4 linked regions of the Homo sapiens genome follow. The protein of the gene in region 1 purifies or fractionates together with the protein of each later gene. This does not show direct contact. Each region holds a gene or a part of one and is shown in the gene's direction. Other genes may lie near its edges.

Region 1 (4,583 bases):
CTCAAAAAAAAAAAAAAAAAAAGAAAAGCCAAGCGTGGTGGCACATGCCTCTAATCTCAGCTATTTGGAGGCTGAGGCAGGAGGATCACTGGAGCTGAGGAGTTCAAGGCTGCTGTGAGCTGTGGTCATGCTACTGCACTCCAGCCTGGGTGACAGATTGAGACCCTGTCTCAAAATATATATACATATATATATAAGCTATCTACTATAAACATAATTTTTAGAGTTTAATTATGTAGCCTATGATAAGTTTAAACTCTTTCAGTTATAAGTGTTAGATGCACATCTCAAGATAGCTTAAGAAAAAAATTAAAAATGAATATATTGGTTTTCATAATTAGAAAGTCCAGGGGTTATATGCCCTCAGACATGACTGATTCCAGTTGCTCAAGCAGTAATTGGTCTCTCTCTATCTCCGTTTCTTGCTTTTGCTTTCATTTGTGTTAGCTTTGCTTTTAGGGACACCCTTTCCACAGAGATGAACTCTTGGCAGCTTGTACATGATCCGTTCAGCAAAGGATTTCAAGAGGCTTCTCTCCCAGTGTCCATATTGTTATGCTTAACAGGTTAGACTGGTCATATATTTAGTCTGTGGTCAGAGAGGCAGAGCCAATGATTGACAGTCCCATCAGAGTAACCCAGAGCCCCATCAGAATTACAAGAAGTATAGTAACAGACTTTTCCTTTTTTTCCCCTTTAATGTACATGCTGCTTTTCACACAGGGTATAATTATAAATAATTTAATTTTCTGACATGGATTTCATTTACTTTTTGATAATGCATCTTTATTTTGATTTGCCATATAATAAGACGGAATAAAGGATTTTCACCATTTTGTTATTTGCAGATTAGTGGAATTGAAGGTTCAGACGGAAGCAGAACAATTTTTACAATAGTTATATAGTATGTATAGTAAATTATATAAATGATTAGAGTAATTAGAGTCAAAAGGGACTAGAGAGCCAGGTGTGGTGGCTCACACCTGTAATCCCAGCACTTAGGGAGGCTGAGGCAGGAGGTTTGCTTGAGATCAGAAGTTCAAGACCAGCCTGGGCAAAATACAGTGAGACCCTGTCTCTACAAAAAATAAAATAAACAATAGGCCGGGCACAGTGGCTCACGCTTGTAATCCCAGCACTTTGGGAGGCCAAGGCTGGTGGATCACCGAACGCCAGGAGTTTGAGACCATCCTGGCCAACATGGTGAAACCCTGCCTCTACTAAAAATACAAAAAATTAGCCAGGTGTGGTGCCGGGCGCCTGTAATCCCAGCTACTTAGGAGGCTGAGGCAGGAGAATCACTTGAACCTGGGAGGCGGAGGTTGCTGTGAGCCGAGATCGCACTATCGCACTCCAGCCTGGGCAACAAGAACGAAACTCCGTCTCAAAAAAAAAAAAAAAAAAAATATATATATATATATATATATACGCGTATATATGTATATATATATATACGCGTATATATATATACGCGTATATATATATATATATATACACACGTATATATATATATATATACACACACACACACACACATATATATATATGGGCGTGGTGGTGCATGCCTGTAGTGCCAGAGGATTGCTGGAGTGTGGGAGGCCGCAGTGAGCCATCATCATGCTACTGCACTCCAGCCTTGGCTATGAGCAAGATCCTGTCTCAAAAAAACAACAAAAAAGGGACCGGGTACATGGTTCATGCCTGTAATCCCAGCACTTCGGGAGGCCGAGGCGGGCAGATCACTTGAGCTCAGGATTTTGAGACCAGCCTGGCCAAATGCAAAACCCCATCTCTACAAAAACTACAAAAAAATTAGCCGAGCGTGATGGTGCTCCTGTAGTTCCAGCTACTCAGGAGGTCAAGGTGGGAGGATCACTTGGGCCCAGGAGGCAGAGGTTGCAGTGAGCTGAGATCGTGTCACTGCACTCCAGTCTGGGCGACAGAGTGAGACCCTGTCTCAAACAAACAAACAAACAAAAAAGAGACTAGAGAAAGACTAAAGAAAATAATCCTCAGGAAATATAAAGAACAATTAAAGTCCCCTTCTAATTTTTTCATTACTTGAATTTTCTTTGAATAACTGCATTCATATAATTCTTCAACACATTACTGATTTAGTGTATACTTCCCTTGCCTGAATGTTATTTTTAATCTCTGAAAAAGTCAATGATGATATAGCAAAACTTTAGAAACAATCTCAGTATCTACTAGTAGGGAAATGGTTAAATTAAAATAAATTATTGTATAGCTACTCAATGGAGTATTTTGACATCTTTTAAAAAATTATGATAGAATCAGATCGGTGGATTGTATCAATGTCAGTATCATGGTTGTGATATTGTACTATAGATTTGCAAGAAGGTTACCACTGGGAAATCTGGGTAAAGGGTACATGGACCCTATTATTTCTTACAATTGATTGTGAATCTGTAGTTATCTCAAAATAAAAAATTAATAAATCATAATCATAAGCACAGTAAATCAACAGGAAAATATTTATTTTTATGTGAAAATATCAAGTTAAAATCTGTAGCACATCATATTATTAGTATATTAAATCATGCATAGGAAAAAAGAGTAGAGAAAGTACACCAGATGGTCATAGCATTTATATCTAAGTTGTTGGATTTACATGATTTTTTTCTTCTCTATACTTTTCCTTATTTTATAAATGTCCTTTAATGAATATATACAATACCTTCTCTAGTCATCAAAAAGTAAAACTTATATTTAAAAAATACATTTAAAAATCTTGCTTTCTCAGCATGCCAGTGTGAAGGAAAAGATAACCGAATTCCATTACTGAAGGAAGTTTTTGAGGCCTTTCCTAACACTCCCATTAACATCGATATCAAAGTCAACAACAATGTGCTGATTAAGAAGGTACTCAAGGCATTGCCTCCTCTGGGTGTGTTGCATCCTATTTCACAAACTAAATAAGGTTAGAGTCAGTGACTGCATAGATTGATAATGCTCAAGGAAATGTGATACCCTAGGGATCAGCATTGTTTTAAATAATGCCTTAGTAGAAGAGATCATTTTACTGTAGGAGAGAGCCTATTTTCAGAGAGAGTTGGCATGTCATGGATAAAATAAGGTTGTATGAACCAATCATTCTGGCATTTATGTAATTATCTTCTAGTTTAACTTGTTTCATTCATGGTTAGTTTATGTCAAATTACTAAATAACTCTATTCTGTTAAATAAATTATATAATGATATAATGTGAATAAATTTTGCATTTTATAAAATATTCTAAATTTACATATTGATTCTTCCAAAAGTTATGCTATTCATTCACAGATAGTCAATTCTAATTCATTTTTTAAGTGAAATGTTGTTAGTGGATTTGCAAATAGGCACATGCATAAAATTTTGAATTTTCACACGTAGGTTTCAGAGTTGGTGAAGCGGTATAATCGAGAACACTTAACAGTGTGGGGTAATGCCAATTATGAAATTGTAGAAAAGTGCTACAAAGAGGTAAGCTTCAAAAATGATACAGAATTATCTATCTTTGTTGTTGTTTTGTATCTACAAATGATAAGTTATTATAGTAATAATTTTTTTTCTTTTTCTTATTTTTAGAGATAGGGTCTCACCCTGTCACCCAGGCTGGAGTGCAGTGGTGCAATCATAGCTCACTGCAGCCTCAAACTCCTGGGCTCAAGTGATCCTCCTGCCTCAGCCTCTCAAGTAGCTGGGACTACAGGCACACACCACTGCACCCAGCTAATTTTTAAATCTTTAGTAGAGATGAGGTCTCACTATATTGCCCACTCTGGTATCAAACTCTTGGACTCAAGCAATCCTCCTGCCTTGGCCTCCCAAAGTGGTGGGATTACAGGTGTGAGCCATTGTGCCTGGCCCTTATTACAGTAATAATTTTTAAAGCATCTTATTTCAGGCCGGGCGCAGTGGCTCACGCCTGTAATCCCAGCACTTTGGGAGGCCAAGGCAGGTGGATCATAAGGTCAGGAGTTCGAGACCAACCTGGCCAATATGGTGAAACCCTGTCTCTATGAAAATATAAAAATTAGTTGGGCATGGTGGCACGTGCCTGTAGTCCCAGCTACTCAGGAGGCTGAGGCAGAAGAATCACTTGAACCCGGGAAGCAGAGGTTGCAGTGAGCTGAGATCATGCCACTGCACTCCAGTCTGGGCAACAGAGCAAGACTCTGTCTCAAAAAAAACAAACAAACACTTATCTTATTTCATAGCCTTCATACACAGGTAGATGGTACTGGGTGGAAGCAACTAGCCAGAAGTTTAATATAGTAGAGATAATGGATTTGAACCTAGCAATATAAGGTCAATGCAGTTGAACTGGTTCAAGGAATTATTATTTTCACATGCTAATGTTAGTTGCTTACCAATATTTCATTATGTGTATTAAAGGAAAAAATACAGTTTCTATCTTTTAATCACTGTCTTGTGTTAGGTAATTAAATTTTTTGTGTGTAATTTTGAGTTAAATTATTTAGCTGGGCATGATGACTCATGCCTGTAATCCTAGCACTTTGGGAGGCCAAAGTGGGAGGATTGCTTGAGCCCAGGTGTTTGAGACCAGCCTGGACAACATA
Region 2 (5,095 bases), on another chromosome or scaffold:
CTGGGATCCCCCTGTGACAGCTCCCAGAATGTCTCTCTTCCTTCTCCAGGTCTGGCTGCTTTCTCTCTCTGACGCGGGTCACCCCTCCTCCCAAGCCTCACAAACCTGCTAGGTGTCCCTGGGTCTGCTTATTCTTTTTTTGTTGTTATTGAGATGGAGTCTTGCTCTGTCTCCCAGGCTGGAGTGCAGTGGCACGACCTCAGCTCACTGCAACTTCTGCCTCCTGGGTTCAAGCGATTCTCCTACTTCAGCCTCCCGAGTAGCTGAGATTACAGGTGCCCACCACCACACCAGCTAATTTTTGTATTTTTAGTAGAGACGGGATTTCGCCATGTTGGCCAGGATGGTCTTGAACTCCTGACCTCAAGTGATCTGCCTGCCTCAACCTCCCAAAGTGCTGAGATTACAGGCGTGAGCCACTGCACCCACCCGGGTCTGCTTATTCTACCCTTCTCTCTGGTTCCACCCCTGCTGCAGTGGACAAGCTGTGCCGAGGTTGTCTCCCAAGAAAAAACCATGTTCCCCAACTTGACAGATGTCAGGGAGGTGGTGACAGACCAGTTCCTATGCAGTGGGACCCAGGAGGATGAGAGTCCCTGCAAGGGTGAGTCCCTCACCATGCCTGGATTCCCAAGGGGAAGGCCACCTGTGTCTCTGTGGCCAGCATGCATGCCAGAACACCAGTCCACTGCCCTAGATGACACTGTCTCCTGTCACCCTTTGCTGGCAGGAGAATCTGGGGGAGCAGTTTTCCTTGAGCGGAGATTCAGGTTTTTTCAGGTGAGAAGGTAGAAGCTTGCAGGACCCAGGGGTTACAGGATCTCAGCCTTGTTGGGGGGATGAGGGAGGCCTTTGAGGGATCTAGGGAGGTTGGGGCTTACAGTTGGGGCTGTGGCAGCCTCCCAGCCAGTTCTCTCCTTTTCTCCAGGTGGGTCTGGTGAGCTGGGGTCTTTACAACCCCTGCCTTGGCTCTGCTGACAAAAACTCCCGCAAAAGGGCCCCTCGTAGCAAGGTCCCGCCGCCACGAGACTTTCACATCAATCTCTTCCGCATGCAGCCCTGGCTGAGGCAGCACCTGGGGGATGTCCTGAATTTTTTACCCCTCTAGCCATGGCCACTGAGCCCTCTGCTGCCCTGCCAGAATCTGCCGCCCCTCCATCTTCTACCTCTGAATGGCCACCCTTAGACCCTGTGATCCATCCTCTCTCCTAGCTGAGTAAATCCGGGTCTCTAGGATGCCAGAGGCAGCGCACACAAGCTGGGAAATCCTCAGGGCTCCTACCAGCAGGACTGCCTCGCTGCCCCACCTCCCGCTCCTTGGCCTGTCCCCAGATTCCTTCCCTGGTTGACTTGACTCATGCTTGTTTCACTTTCACATGGAATTTCCCAGTTATGAAATTAATAAAAATCAATGGTTTCCACATCTCTCAGTGCCTCTATCTGGAGGCCAGGTAGGGCTGGCCTTGGGGGAGGGGGAGGCCAGAATGACTCCAAGAGCTACAGGAAGGCAGGTCAGAGACCCCACTGGACAAACAGTGGCTGGACTCTGCACCATAACACACAATCAACAGGGGAGTGAGCTGGATCCTTATTTCTGGTCCCTAAGTGGGTGGTTTGGGCTTACTGGGGAGGAGCTAAGGCCGGAGAGGAGGTACTGAAGGGGAGAGTCCTGGACCTTTGGCAGCAAAGGGTGGGACTTCTGCAGTTTCTGTTTCCTTGACTGGCAGCTCAGCGGGGCCCTCCCGCTTGGATGTTCCGGGAAAGTGATGTGGGTAGGACAGGCGGGGCGAGCCGCAGGTGCCAGAACACAGATTGTATAAAAGGCTGGGGGCTGGTGGGGAGCAGGGGAAGGGAATGTGACCAGGTCTAGGTCTGGAGTTTCAGCTTGGACACTGAGCCAAGCAGACAAGCAAAGCAAGCCAGGACACACCATCCTGCCCCAGGCCCAGCTTCTCTCCTGCCTTCCAACGCCATGGGGAGCAATCTCAGCCCCCAACTCTGCCTGATGCCCTTTATCTTGGGCCTCTTGTCTGGAGGTAAGCGAGGGTAACCTTCCCTTCCTGCTGTCTCCAGCATCCCTCCTTGGCCTTTTGGGGCCAGGCTTCATCAGCCTTTCTCTTCAGGTGTGACCACCACTCCATGGTCTTTGGCCCGGCCCCAGGGATCCTGCTCTCTGGAGGGGGTAGAGATCAAAGGCGGCTCCTTCCGACTTCTCCAAGAGGGCCAGGCACTGGAGTACGTGTGTCCTTCTGGCTTCTACCCGTACCCTGTGCAGACACGTACCTGCAGATCTACGGGGTCCTGGAGCACCCTGAAGACTCAAGACCAAAAGACTGTCAGGAAGGCAGAGTGCAGAGGTTTGAGGGCAATGAGTGTGGGCAGTGGCCTAAGGCAGAAACAGGGCAGGCGGCAGCAAGGTCAGGACTAGGATGAGACTAGGCAGGGTGACAAGGTGGGCTGACCGGGAGTAGGAGCAGTTTTAGGGTGGCAGGCGGAAAGGGGGCAAGAAAAAGCGGAGTTAACCCTTACTAAGCATTTACCCTGGGCTTCCAGGCAGCCCTGGAAGTCAAGAGAACACTCAGAAATGGGGAGGGAGAAGCAGTGGAAATCCATATGGGTTGAGGAGTAGGTAAGATGCTGCTTCTGCGGGACTGGGAATGCGCTGTTTCTCAGTGACATGGTCTCCGAGACCAGGAGGGATACACCTAAGGCAGCCTTTCCCTCTTGATGACTTCTACTTGTCCCCCCTTCTCAAAGCAATCCACTGTCCAAGACCACACGACTTCGAGAACGGGGAATACTGGCCCCGGTCTCCCTACTACAATGTGAGTGATGAGATCTCTTTCCACTGCTATGACGGTTACACTCTCCGGGGCTCTGCCAATCGCACCTGCCAAGTGAATGGCCGATGGAGTGGGCAGACAGCGATCTGTGACAACGGAGGTGAGAAGCATCCCCTCCCCCTACATTGCTGTCTCCCTGACGGCGCCCAGCCCGAGGAGTGGGCACTCGGCTCCGGACACTGTAACTCTTGCTCTCTACCTTGCTCACGGGGCCTCAGGCTTCAGTGCTTACCTCGATGTCTCATACCTCTGCAGCGGGGTACTGCTCCAACCCGGGCATCCCCATTGGCACAAGGAAGGTGGGCAGCCAGTACCGCCTTGAAGACAGCGTCACCTACCACTGCAGCCGGGGGCTTACCCTGCGTGGCTCCCAGCGGCGAACGTGTCAGGAAGGTGGCTCTTGGAGCGGGACGGAGCCTTCCTGCCAAGGTGACCTTTGACCTGTACCCCCAGGTCAGATCCTGGTCTTCCATCCTACTGTCTTCTCTCCCCACCTCAACCCTGCTCTTTCCTCACTTTGTTTAAACCTCCCTGTACAACTATCTCACTTCTGAGCCTTTTATACCCTGGAAACCCATGATCCCCCGTCTCTTTGGTCACTGTATCCCTGACACTCCCAGACATTTGACCTCATTTCTGACTCTCCCAGACTCCTTCATGTACGACACCCCTCAAGAGGTGGCCGAAGCTTTCCTGTCTTCCCTGACAGAGACCATAGAAGGAGTCGATGCTGAGGATGGGCACGGCCCAGGTTTGAAGACAGAGAAGGGAGGCAGGGCAGGGAACTGGGGGAAAATGGAGAAGGGACAGAACTGTTAATGCTGGAGCCTGAGCCACTCTCCTGGCACCCAGGGGAACAACAGAAGCGGAAGATCGTCCTGGACCCTTCAGGCTCCATGAACATCTACCTGGTGCTAGATGGATCAGACAGCATTGGGGCCAGCAACTTCACAGGAGCCAAAAAGTGTCTAGTCAACTTAATTGAGAAGGTGGAATCCTCCTATCCCTGAACTCGGGGGAATGGAATCTCGCTGATCTTCCAGGACTAGCTCCCTGATCATTCCAGCCCCTCTGAACAACAGGGCCCCAGGAAAATCTCCAGGTCCTATTCTGTCCTCCTTCCCTTTTACTTGAAGCAGTTTCTTGACTGGTAATTCCTCCATGAACCTCAGCCCTTGAGCCTCTTACTGAGAGCCTCCCTGTCCCAGCAAAGTCGCTGAAATCTCCCAATCACAGTATTCTATTTTCAATGCCATGGCGCCTTGTTCTCCTCACCCACAGGTGGCAAGTTATGGTGTGAAGCCAAGATATGGTCTAGTGACATATGCCACATACCCCAAAATTTGGGTCAAAGTGTCTGAAGCAGACAGCAGTAATGCAGACTGGGTCACGAAGCAGCTCAATGAAATCAATTATGAAGGTCAGAGGTTAGGGAATGGTGGGAGGTTCACTTTGGGGTCAGGAGGTTCAGGGTGGAGGGGGTCATGAGACTACCTTGAGGGCGACAGGGAGGACCACTTTGTAGTCAAAAGTTGAACAGCAGGATCGTTGGGCAATGGAGGTTAGTGGGAACCTGTTGGGGGCTGGAAGGGCCACTTTGTGGTCAAAGGGAAGTCCGTGTAATGATGATTAACTTAAAAAGTTGAAAGATGTGGGATTTCAGTTGCAGATTGGTCTCTGGGGTTAAAAGATGGCTTGGAAGACCAGGTGAGGTGATGGTCTCTTCCCTCTCCACAGACCACAAGTTGAAGTCAGGGACTAACACCAAGAAGGCCCTCCAGGCAGTGTACAGCATGATGAGCTGGCCAGATGACGTCCCTCCTGAAGGCTGGAACCGCACCCGCCATGTCATCATCCTCATGACTGATGGTCAGAAGGGACCTCTCTCCTGTCCCAGCCTCCCCACCTTCTCAGACCAGCATGTGGCCCTTAAGTCCACTTGTAACACTATACCCATGGTTGGGGCCCTGAATGTGACTCATAGCTGGCTGTTCATCTCTCCTGTGACCCTTCATAAGGAATTCTTCCTAAGCCCTGTGATCAACTATCTCTAACCCTTCCTCAACTTGCTCACCCTGCCATGTGTATCCCTGCCTTTAGCCAGTTTATCTTCCTTATCTCCTACCCTCATGGTCCTGTCTCTTCTGCAGGATTGCACAACATGGGCGGGGACCCAATTACTGTCATTGATGAGATCCGGGACTTGCTATACATTGGCAAGGATCGCAAAAACCCAAGGGAGGATTATCTGG
Region 3 (5,356 bases), on another chromosome or scaffold:
AGGGCAGGAGTCAGGCCTCAGGCTGGTCCCACCCATCACCCTGCCTCTGGCCCACCTGGCGCCCCTCAGAGGGCTGAGTCTCACTCTGCCACTCTCACTAGAGGAGGGAGCACTCTGCTACCCTCCCTGCTTTGCTCCAAATCAGGAACACAGTATGATTATTATACAGTATGATTATTATAATAACAGCAACTATTTTTCAGAGCTTACTCTGTGCCAGGAGCTCTATAGGCAGCCCTCTGTATCCTTGGTTTCTGTGTCCATGGATTCAACCAACCTTGGATTGAAAATAATTTTTTAGGCCGGGCGTGGTGGCTCACGCCTGTAATCTCAGCACTTTGGGAGGTTGAGGCGGGCGGATCACGAGGTCAGGAGATCGAGACCATCCTGGCTAACACGGCGAAACCCCATCTCTACTAAAAATACAAAAAAAAAAAAAAAAATTAGCCGGGCGTGGTGGCGGGCGCCTATGGTCCCAGCTACTTGGGAGGCTGAGGCAGGAGAATGGCGTGAACCCGGGAGGCAGAGCTTGCAGTGAGCCGAGATCGTGCCACTGCACTCCAGCCTGGGTGACAGAGCAAGACTCCATCTCAAAAAAAAAAAAAAAAAAAAAAATATATATATATATATATATATATTTTTTTTTTTAAATTGCATCTGTGGGCCGGGTGCAGTGGCTCATGCCTGTAAGCCCAGCATTTTAGGAGGCAGAGATTGGAGGATCACTTAAGGCCAGGAGTTGGAGACCAGCCTGAGCAACATAGCGACACCCCATCTCCATTAAAAACAATGTTTTAAAAAAATTGCATCTGGGCAGGGCGCAGTGGCTCACGCCTATAAGCCCAGCACTTTGGGAGGCCCACATGGGAGGATTGCTTGAGGCCAGGAGTTGGAGACCAGCCTGAGCAACATGGTGAAACCCCGTCTCTGCTGTAAATACACAAATTAGCTGGGCGTGGTGGTGGGTGCCTGTAATCCCAGCTACTCAGGAGGCTGAGGCAGGAGAATCACTTGAACCTGGGGGGCAGAGATTGCAGTGAGCTAAGATCGTGCCACTGCACTCCAGCCTGGGTGACAGAGTAAGACTCCATCTCAAAAAAAAAAAAAATTGCACCTGTACTAAACATATACAGACTTTTTTGGTGATTACCTCCTAAACAATACAGTATAACAACCATTCACACAGCATTTCCGTCGTATTAGGTATTATAAGTAATCTAGAGATTTAAAGTATGTGGGAGGCTGTGCTTAGGTTATATGCAAATACTATGCCATTTTATATCAAGGACTTGAACATCCATGGATTTTGGTATCTGCAGAGGGTCCTGGAATCAATTTCCCATGGAGACTGAGAGATGACCGTACTACCCACTTCGCAAGCAATGTCTTCTTTAATGTACTGAACCATCCCATTGTTCAGAGGAGAAACTGAAGCTCAGGGCTTTGAATAACTAGACCAAGGAGGCACAGCATGGGAGTGGGACATGAAGCACTCTACAATTAACCCTTTCAGGACAAGGCCCTGTCTCCCACACCCATCTGCCCAAAGGCTCTCCAGGGCCCCCTCCTCTTGGGTGTACCTTGACAAGAGACCTAGATTTTAGCTCACTATGCTGTCTGCAGTCCTGGATGGTCCCACTCCAGTGTCTGGTGCTCTGAGATGGAGTCAGCATTAGTGGCGGATGTGGAGACTGGGGGGACCTGTCTTCACTGGGGTAGACAGAGGAGATGTGGACTTTGCCCCCCATGAGCCCGGCACAAACCCAGAGCCGCCAGCAGGGCCTCGAGGCATCAGTCCCGGGCTCATGGGCTCCCTGAGGTGTTTCTCCTACTGTTTTCCGTTCCCCTCCTCCCTTCCATGCTGAGGTTGGTGGGGTGGGGGTGGGGGTGCCCACGCACGGAACAGCCACCACTTCTAACTATCGCCTGAGCCCTGATCTGCTGTCAGCTTCCACGTAGTCTCAGGGTCACAAAAGTCCAAGAGGCCTCTTGGGAATGTGTCACCTTCCAGCGTGGAGTCACACTGAGGAAGGAGGAGGGGAGGGCAGCCAGGGGGGTGGCGATAGGGAGAGAGTTTAAATGTCTGGCTGGCTCTGAGCTTCAGTCAGTTCCCACTGCAGCGCAGGTGAGCTCTCCTGAGGACCTCTCTGTCAGCTCCCCTGATTGTAGGGAGGATCCAGTGTGGCAAGAAACTCCTCCAGCCCAGCAAGCAGCTCAGGATGTTCCTGAAGGCCGTGGTCCTGACCCTGGCCCTGGTGGCTGTCGCCGGTGAGTAGAAGCTGTCTTTGGATGGCACTCCTGGGCTGCTGCTCTGAGTAGTGCAGGATGGAGGCTGAGCCAAAGCAAAAGGACACTTCTGAGTGCCCATCAGCCCCCAGCTGGACATGAGGTCTGCCTGGCTGCCAAGTGGCTCACAGGAGAGCTGGCCCAGTCCCAGTGGTGGGCCCATTGGCATTGGTGCTATACCAGTTTCACATATCCCTGTGGCTTCCAAAAAGCTAAGCTCAGACAGGGAAAATGGCAGGTTGAGGCACCCCCACCATCATCCAGTCTGCAGCTCAGAGCTGGAGCAGAGGGGCCACACAGGAGACGGGGCCTCATGAATTGCTCTCTGTTACCACCCAGGAGCCAGGGCTGAGGTCAGTGCTGACCAGGTGGCCACGGTGATGTGGGACTACTTCAGCCAGCTGAGCAACAATGCCAAGGAGGCCGTGGAACATCTCCAGAAATCTGAACTCACCCAGCAACTCAAGTAAGAGGGACTACAGTGTGCGGTGGTGACGGGGAATTCTTAAAGGCCATGCAATGTACTGGCAAGGGTTGAGCTTAGAGACAGGAGCCCTGAGCTTAGGATACCCACTGCCCTGCCACTAACTGGCCGGGCCTCTGAACCTAGGATCCACATATGTAAACCGGAAGTTTGGACCGAATAATCCCTGCCATGTCCTTTTGCTTTGACGTTCTAGAGTTTGACAAATGGCCACATCCTATCATTCAGGCTCATGGAAGAGAGGGAGGGAGGAAAATGTCACGTGAGCTGATTTCTAATACGTTTCAGAAAGACAGGCCCCAGTGGAATCAAGGGGAGGGAGGTGGGAATATTTGGGAGGCCCCTGGGCACAGGCAAGGAAAGCAGCACCTTGTGCCACTGGAAGACCCCAGCAGAGGTCAAGAAGACAACATTGTGTTACACAATGTGATCCTATGGCCCAGAACACTCCCTCTGGGAAGGACCTCAAAGTCCCACCCTCTGCAGACAAGGAGGGGAAAGCAAACTGCTGGAGGTGACATGGTGGGTAGATTCTGAGACAAACTATGTGGGAGATCCTGAGATAGAAATTCAGCATCGTAACTTAGTCTGTGACACCCATCCTCTCCAATCTGCACCACCATAGGGAGGGTGAACTCGGTACCTCTGAGCACTCACCTGTCCTAGCACGTGTGCATAAGGCGAGTGGTATACAAGCAGACAAAGTCTTGCCGTGTAAATGCCAAATGTAACGTGGCCTCCTTGTGCCCTTCCCCACAGTGCCCTCTTCCAGGACAAACTTGGAGAAGTGAACACTTACGCAGGTGACCTGCAGAAGAAGCTGGTGCCCTTTGCCACCGAGCTGCATGAACGCCTGGCCAAGGACTCGGAGAAACTGAAGGAGGAGATTGGGAAGGAGCTGGAGGAGCTGAGGGCCCGGCTGCTGCCCCATGCCAATGAGGTGAGCCAGAAGATCGGGGACAACCTGCGAGAGCTTCAGCAGCGCCTGGAGCCCTACGCGGACCAGCTGCGCACCCAGGTCAGCACGCAGGCCGAGCAGCTGCGGCGCCAGCTGACCCCCTACGCACAGCGCATGGAGAGAGTGCTGCGGGAGAACGCCGACAGCCTGCAGGCCTCGCTGAGGCCCCACGCCGACGAGCTCAAGGCCAAGATCGACCAGAACGTGGAGGAGCTCAAGGGACGCCTTACGCCCTACGCTGACGAATTCAAAGTCAAGATTGACCAGACCGTGGAGGAGCTGCGCCGCAGCCTGGCTCCCTATGCTCAGGACACGCAGGAGAAGCTCAACCACCAGCTTGAGGGCCTGACCTTCCAGATGAAGAAGAACGCCGAGGAGCTCAAGGCCAGGATCTCGGCCAGTGCCGAGGAGCTGCGGCAGAGGCTGGCGCCCTTGGCCGAGGACGTGCGTGGCAACCTGAGGGGCAACACCGAGGGGCTGCAGAAGTCACTGGCAGAGCTGGGTGGGCACCTGGACCAGCAGGTGGAGGAGTTCCGACGCCGGGTGGAGCCCTACGGGGAAAACTTCAACAAAGCCCTGGTGCAGCAGATGGAACAGCTCAGGCAGAAACTGGGCCCCCATGCGGGGGACGTGGAAGGCCACTTGAGCTTCCTGGAGAAGGACCTGAGGGACAAGGTCAACTCCTTCTTCAGCACCTTCAAGGAGAAAGAGAGCCAGGACAAGACTCTCTCCCTCCCTGAGCTGGAGCAACAGCAGGAACAGCAGCAGGAGCAGCAGCAGGAGCAGGTGCAGATGCTGGCCCCTTTGGAGAGCTGAGCTGCCCCTGGTGCACTGGCCCCACCCTCGTGGACACCTGCCCTGCCCTGCCACCTGTCTGTCTGTCTGTCCCAAAGAAGTTCTGGTATGAACTTGAGGACACATGTCCAGTGGGAGGTGAGACCACCTCTCAATATTCAATAAAGCTGCTGAGAATCTAGCCTCAACTGGTTGCCGGATGAATCCTCCTTGCAGCTGGGGAGGTGGGGAGGTAACCATGACTGGGCAGAGCTTAGCAGCGGCCTGGCAGGAGACACCCAGGATTGGGGAGATGAGACTGCAGGAGAGGTAAGGGCCTGGTGGACTGGAGGCGAGTACATGGGGAGTCCTCTAAGGGGAGGCAGAAAAAGATGTCACACATTATCCCAAGACAAAATATGCAACCTACTTATATTCATTTAGCCAACAAATATGCATTGAATGCCTCCGATGCGCCAGTCATTATTCTAGGCACCGGACAACCAGCAAACAGCTTTTGTGCAGCCATGTGCCCGACTCTGCCTCACACTGAGGGGGACACCTGGAGGCGAGCAGAACAGGGTCCCTGGCCCTGGGGGGCTCACAGTACACTGGGGGAGATGGTTCCTCCTTGCACGAGATCTTCAGTGCCTTTAACTTATTCATGTAGTGTCATTTAACCCACCCCACCCCAGTTCCATTATGAAAGCGATTCATGCTTATTTCAGAACTTTCTTGACTGCTAAACCTGTGGTCTCCATCCAGAATTGGGGATTGAGGCTTGGGGACCGAGACGAGTCTGGGGAGGAGGGGCAGAGCAGGTGCTGGAGCCTGCGGGGCCCTGGTCTGCTCTG
Region 4 (4,583 bases), on another chromosome or scaffold:
GAAGAGGAAGGAGTATGAAATGAAACTTCACACTGAGGCCCAGATCCAAGAAGAAGGAACAGGTTTGTGTACTACATGGGTATAAGAGAAAACACAACAGGCATTGATTTTCTTAGCCAAATAATGAATTGTAAGTTGGGGGGAGGTGATAGAATTTTAGAGACATCATTCTTCCCAAAAATAACAGATTTTTTTCTCTTTTTTCAGTGGTGGAATTGACTGGAAGGCAGTCCAGTGAAATCACAAGAACCATAACCAAACTCTCATTTGTGAAAGTGGACTCACACTTTCGACAGGGAATTCCCTTCTTTGGGCAGGTGGAGTATTTTCCAGTTCACTCATCAACCCATGTACTGTTACCTAATTAGCACAATAGTTATGGTTTGTGCTAAAACCATGCCTGGTTAATGTTATCATTTAATATAACCAAAAGTATAAAATATCACCAAGGCTTGATTAGTATAACCAAAGGTATAAAACTACATAAAAATAGATTTATTCTTCTGTAAATTTGTGTATGAAATGTATGTAATTATCCTAAGGCCTTATTAAAATTAGTAGAGTTTTCCCCCCTTCTTTTGAAACAGCATTGTACAAGTCACTCAATCTCCTTCTCATGGTTTACCAGGCAGTCTCAGGTTTTTATGACATTTTCTCACAAGAATCTCAAAATTCATGCTGACCAGTTTCATTACGATGCTAACACTAACTTTGTATGGAAACAGGTGGGTAGGTGGTTTTAATTTTTATTTTGAAGTATTAAAGATTCTACAATAATGTTTATTTCATGGATAGTATATTTACACTATTTTTCTATAACAAGTATATTTCTAAAACAGTGAACATGGGGTAAAACACTGCTATTTAAGGTTCTCAGATTTTTGAATTATGAATTTTCATGTTATCTACCAAAAAAATCTTCTCTTACAATTTTTCTGTTGTCAGCAGATGTGCAAATGGATCTTTATGACTCTAGAAGTCTGAGATCACAGTTACATGTGCCTCAATGTGTATTTACTGTGTATCATTTTCTTAATGTAAATGTTACAGGATTTCAGCTATGAAGGGTGTAAAAGAGGCATAGACTCAACAAAGTGGAGTACATTCTAGAAGGCTTGGTTATGTCATGACACCAAAATGTATTCAACTTCCTAAAATGAAAGTGTAGCTCATTTGTAAATTTCTCAGAAAGATAGTGTACTTTGTAAGTACATTTTATTGCTGTTAAATATCCTATTTGTCATAAGACTCTCTAGCTAGAAGAAAATCAGAATTATGTGCCTATTCTTGTCTTTGTACATGCAGCCAACATTTCACTGGCAAACTTAGATTTTGTAAATCAATTATGAGTACTGATGGGGGTCAGCCTATTGTTCTTCCTGCTACCAACTGTAGCTTATACTGAAAAAGAATTGCCACCTTTACAATCTGAACTGGACTACTCAACTGCCAATACAATATTAGCAGTAAATTAGATTTGGCAACTTATTTAATACTGTGTGCCTCTTTTCAATTTTATATTTTTCACATGGGAAGTGTGTCATAAAATCTGCCTACCTTCCAAAAGGCTGAAGATCTAGGTTGAGAAGCAGAGACCATGTCTAAGGCAACTGGAGAAACACACAGGACAATGTATTGGCAATTGTTTACTTGTGCACTTATGAGACTTCAGACACTAATCTATAGGAAGTTAATGGTCCACTCCAAAATAGGTGTTTGGGGCACAAATAAATTTAGTTAATAGATTAATAGATTAAAATATTTCATTATCATATTACTCTAGTGCTCTGTGACTCTCTAAGAGTTATATATAATAATACACAGCACTTCCAAAATATCTAGAAGACATTTTTCAGGTCACTCTTGTTATTATCCCTATCACTCTCTATCCCTTCACACTGCTCTGTTTTTCTTCTTAGGATTGATTACTACTAAATTAGTGTATGTTATGTATATATTTATTTAGCATCTATCTCTTTCACTAGACAGTAAGCTCTGTGATGGAAGAAACTTCGTTTTTTTTCACTGCTGTGTCCTCAGTGCCTGGAACCATGTTCAACATAGAGGAGGCACTAAAAAATGTGATAAATGAATATGTTTGGTGCCTATTAGTTATTACCAATATAACTAATCCACAGCTTTTAATCTTCAGGTGCGCCTAGTAGATGGGAAAGGCGTCCCTATACCAAATAAAGTCATATTCATCAGAGGAAATGAAGCAAACTATTACTCCAATGCTACCACGGATGAGCATGGCCTTGTACAGTTCTCTATCAACACCACCAATGTTATGGGTACCTCTCTTACTGTTAGGGTAAGTTTGGAAAGAAATTACCAATGACATGAAGTAGCCTTGGAAACAAGGTTGCAACCTAAGGGTGAGAAAATTTCCAAACTGTGTCTAGTTCTATGGAGAGAAAAAAACTAGCAATTAGAAACCGATTGAAGGTTAACTTTTTTAAAGTTTATGAAAAGAAGGCAGTATATTGTGATTAAAAGTGCGGGTTAGACTTTAGCAGTGTTGCTGGGAACGTAAAATGGCGGAGCCACTATGAAAAACAGTATAGTAGTTCCTGAAAAAATTAAAAAATAGAATTACCAAATGATCCAGTAATCCTACTTCTGGACATATATTCAAAAGAATCGAAAACGGGGTCTCAAAGAGCTATTTGCACACCCGTGTTCATAGCCGCACTATTCACAATAGCTGAGAGATCGAGGCTACCCAAATGTCCATCAAGGGATGAACAGGTAAACAAAATGTGGTATATAAATACAACAGAATATTATGCAGCCTGAGAAGGGAAGAAAATCCTGTCACATGCTACAGCATGAATGATCCTTGAGGACGTTATGGTAAGTGAAATAAGCTAGTCACAAAAAGACCAATACTGTATGATTCACGTACATGGGGTTTCTAAAGTAGTCAAAGTCATAGAAACAGAAAACAGGATGGTGGTTGCCAAGGGCTAGGGAAAGAGAGAAATGGGGAATTCCTCTTATTGGTATTCAGGTTTAGTTTTACAAGATGAAAAGTTCTGGAGATCTGTTGCACAACAGATATACTTAATACTACCAAACTGTACACTAAAGAATAATGAAGATGGTAATTTTATGTTGTGTGTGTGTGTGTGTTTATAATAACTTTTTTGAAAAGTGTGAATTCCAGAATCTGAATCAGATAAAGTGGTTAAAAATACTGGCTCAACCCTATTTTAAGGAATTAACTAAAACCTCTGTGCTTCATTTCCTTATCTGTAAAATGATTGCAATACTAACACCTGACTCTTGGGGTGGTTGTGAAGATTAAGTGAAATCATACATGTTGAATCACTTAGTAAGCCCCCTTTAACTGTTAGATACTTTTACTATAAAAGCCAATTCTAACATAATTAGCATTTAGTTTTAAATATATATACTCCAAAAATTATTACCTTACTTTATTTTGTCTTGCTATTCTAATTTTCTCCAGATGACCTGTTCATACCAATATAAGTTATTCGGTATAGCATGCAGTCCTCTATTCATCAAGAGAGATGTAGACATGTCTATAGATACATGGATATACAATACATATTTAATATATATTACATAATCATGGTAATGGAAAACGCCTGCCTCTTTAGAGTTTTACCTTGTTATAGAGAAATAAATAATACATTTTATTTATTTAGCTTTAATAGATGGCATAAAAGCACCTCCCTCTAATTTGAATGTTTACTCATTTCAAAAAGTGTCTTGAATGCTTTCCACGTGCCAGCACTGTGCTAGTCTTGACAATGAAATTATTATTTCTACCTGTTCCCTGTTTGGGGTGATCATATATGTGTTGTCACCAAAATATACATTAAGATATGAACAAAATGTTTTGCTCAAGGATTCACTAGTGCTATTGGGAGCTGGGGATGAAGGTAGAGGAAGCCTGAAAGGAGCTAAGGAATAACTTCTACAGGAAGAAAAGTTGGAAATATAACCCAAATAGGGCCTCTGAGGTATTAGAATCCAGATTGCAGGGAGCATTAAAAATAGTCAGCCTAGGCCAGGCACGGTAGCTCACGCCTGTAATCCCAGCACTTTGGGAGGCTGAGGTGGGTGGATTGCGTGAGGCCAGGAGATCGAGACGAGCCTAGGCAACGTGGTGAAACCCTGTCTCTACAAAATATACAAAAAATTAGCTGGGTGGGGTGGCATGCACCTGTAGTCCTAGCAACTCAGGAGGCTGACTGGGAGGATCACTTGAGCCCCAGAGGCAGAGATTGCACTGAGCCAAGATTGTGCCACTGTACTCCAGCATGGGCGCCAGAGCAAAACCCTGTCTCAAAAAAATAATAATAATAGCAATCAGCCTAAGATAGCCCAGAAGAGGTAGACTTCAGCTAATTCATCAGCTCAGCTCTTAAACCAATGCTTTCTACCAATGTCTTCTCAGACCCCTAAGGTTACAATATTTTATTTATTCATAATACCCATTCAAAATCCACCCTAAAAGAGGCAGCTGCTTTCTGAAAGCACAGTTCTTCCATTTCTAGAGATTATTTACTCTCCTCAATGAAGTTTCATAGCTCCAGTGTCTCTAATTGCAC

What was found.
Region 2: the proteins of GDPD1 (region 1) and CFB purify together in Homo sapiens (affinity purification with mass spectrometry; 3 studies listed by BioGRID and IntAct, with this or other methods). This does not show direct contact.
Region 3: the proteins of GDPD1 (region 1) and APOA4 purify together in Homo sapiens (affinity purification with mass spectrometry; 3 studies listed by BioGRID and IntAct, with this or other methods). This does not show direct contact.
Region 4: the proteins of GDPD1 (region 1) and A2M purify together in Homo sapiens (affinity purification with mass spectrometry; 3 studies listed by BioGRID and IntAct, with this or other methods). This does not show direct contact.

The regions. Positions count from the first base shown.
Region 1 is NC_000017.11:59,254,358-59,258,940, forward strand, and holds part of GDPD1 (lysophospholipase D GDPD1), read left to right. Parts: intron 1-249; exon of another isoform or gene 250-478; coding exon of another isoform or gene 479-566; intron 567-2,764; coding exon 2,765-2,883; intron 2,884-3,393; coding exon 3,394-3,483; intron 3,484-4,583. UniProt on the Homo sapiens protein: Hydrolyzes lysoglycerophospholipids to produce lysophosphatidic acid (LPA) and the corresponding amines. Shows a preference for 1-O-alkyl-sn-glycero-3-phosphocholine (lyso-PAF), lysophosphatidylethanolamine (lyso-PE) and lysophosphatidylcholine (lyso-PC).
Region 2 is NC_000006.12:31,944,250-31,949,344, forward strand, and holds the start of CFB (complement factor B preproprotein), read left to right. Parts: upstream 1-1,845; 5' UTR 1,846-1,972; coding exon 1,973-2,036; intron 2,037-2,123; coding exon 2,124-2,357; intron 2,358-2,757; coding exon 2,758-2,943; intron 2,944-3,098; coding exon 3,099-3,272; intron 3,273-3,492; coding exon 3,493-3,594; intron 3,595-3,695; coding exon 3,696-3,832; intron 3,833-4,124; coding exon 4,125-4,263; intron 4,264-4,580; coding exon 4,581-4,712; intron 4,713-4,993; coding exon 4,994-5,095. Other genes in the region: complement C2 isoform 1 preproprotein, read left to right, coding at 478-604, 731-780, 929-1,108.
Region 3 is NC_000011.10:116,820,055-116,825,410, reverse strand, and holds APOA4 (apolipoprotein A-IV precursor), read left to right. Parts: upstream 1-2,106; 5' UTR 2,107-2,219; coding exon 2,220-2,268; intron 2,269-2,625; coding exon 2,626-2,752; intron 2,753-3,529; coding exon 3,530-4,544; 3' UTR 4,545-4,711; downstream 4,712-5,356. UniProt on the Homo sapiens protein: May have a role in chylomicrons and VLDL secretion and catabolism. Required for efficient activation of lipoprotein lipase by ApoC-II; potent activator of LCAT. Apoa-IV is a major component of HDL and chylomicrons.
Region 4 is NC_000012.12:9,101,970-9,106,552, reverse strand, and holds part of A2M (alpha-2-macroglobulin isoform a precursor), read left to right. Parts: coding exon 1-62; intron 63-207; coding exon 208-317; intron 318-2,152; coding exon 2,153-2,314; intron 2,315-4,583. UniProt on the Homo sapiens protein: Is able to inhibit all four classes of proteinases by a unique 'trapping' mechanism. This protein has a peptide stretch, called the 'bait region' which contains specific cleavage sites for different proteinases.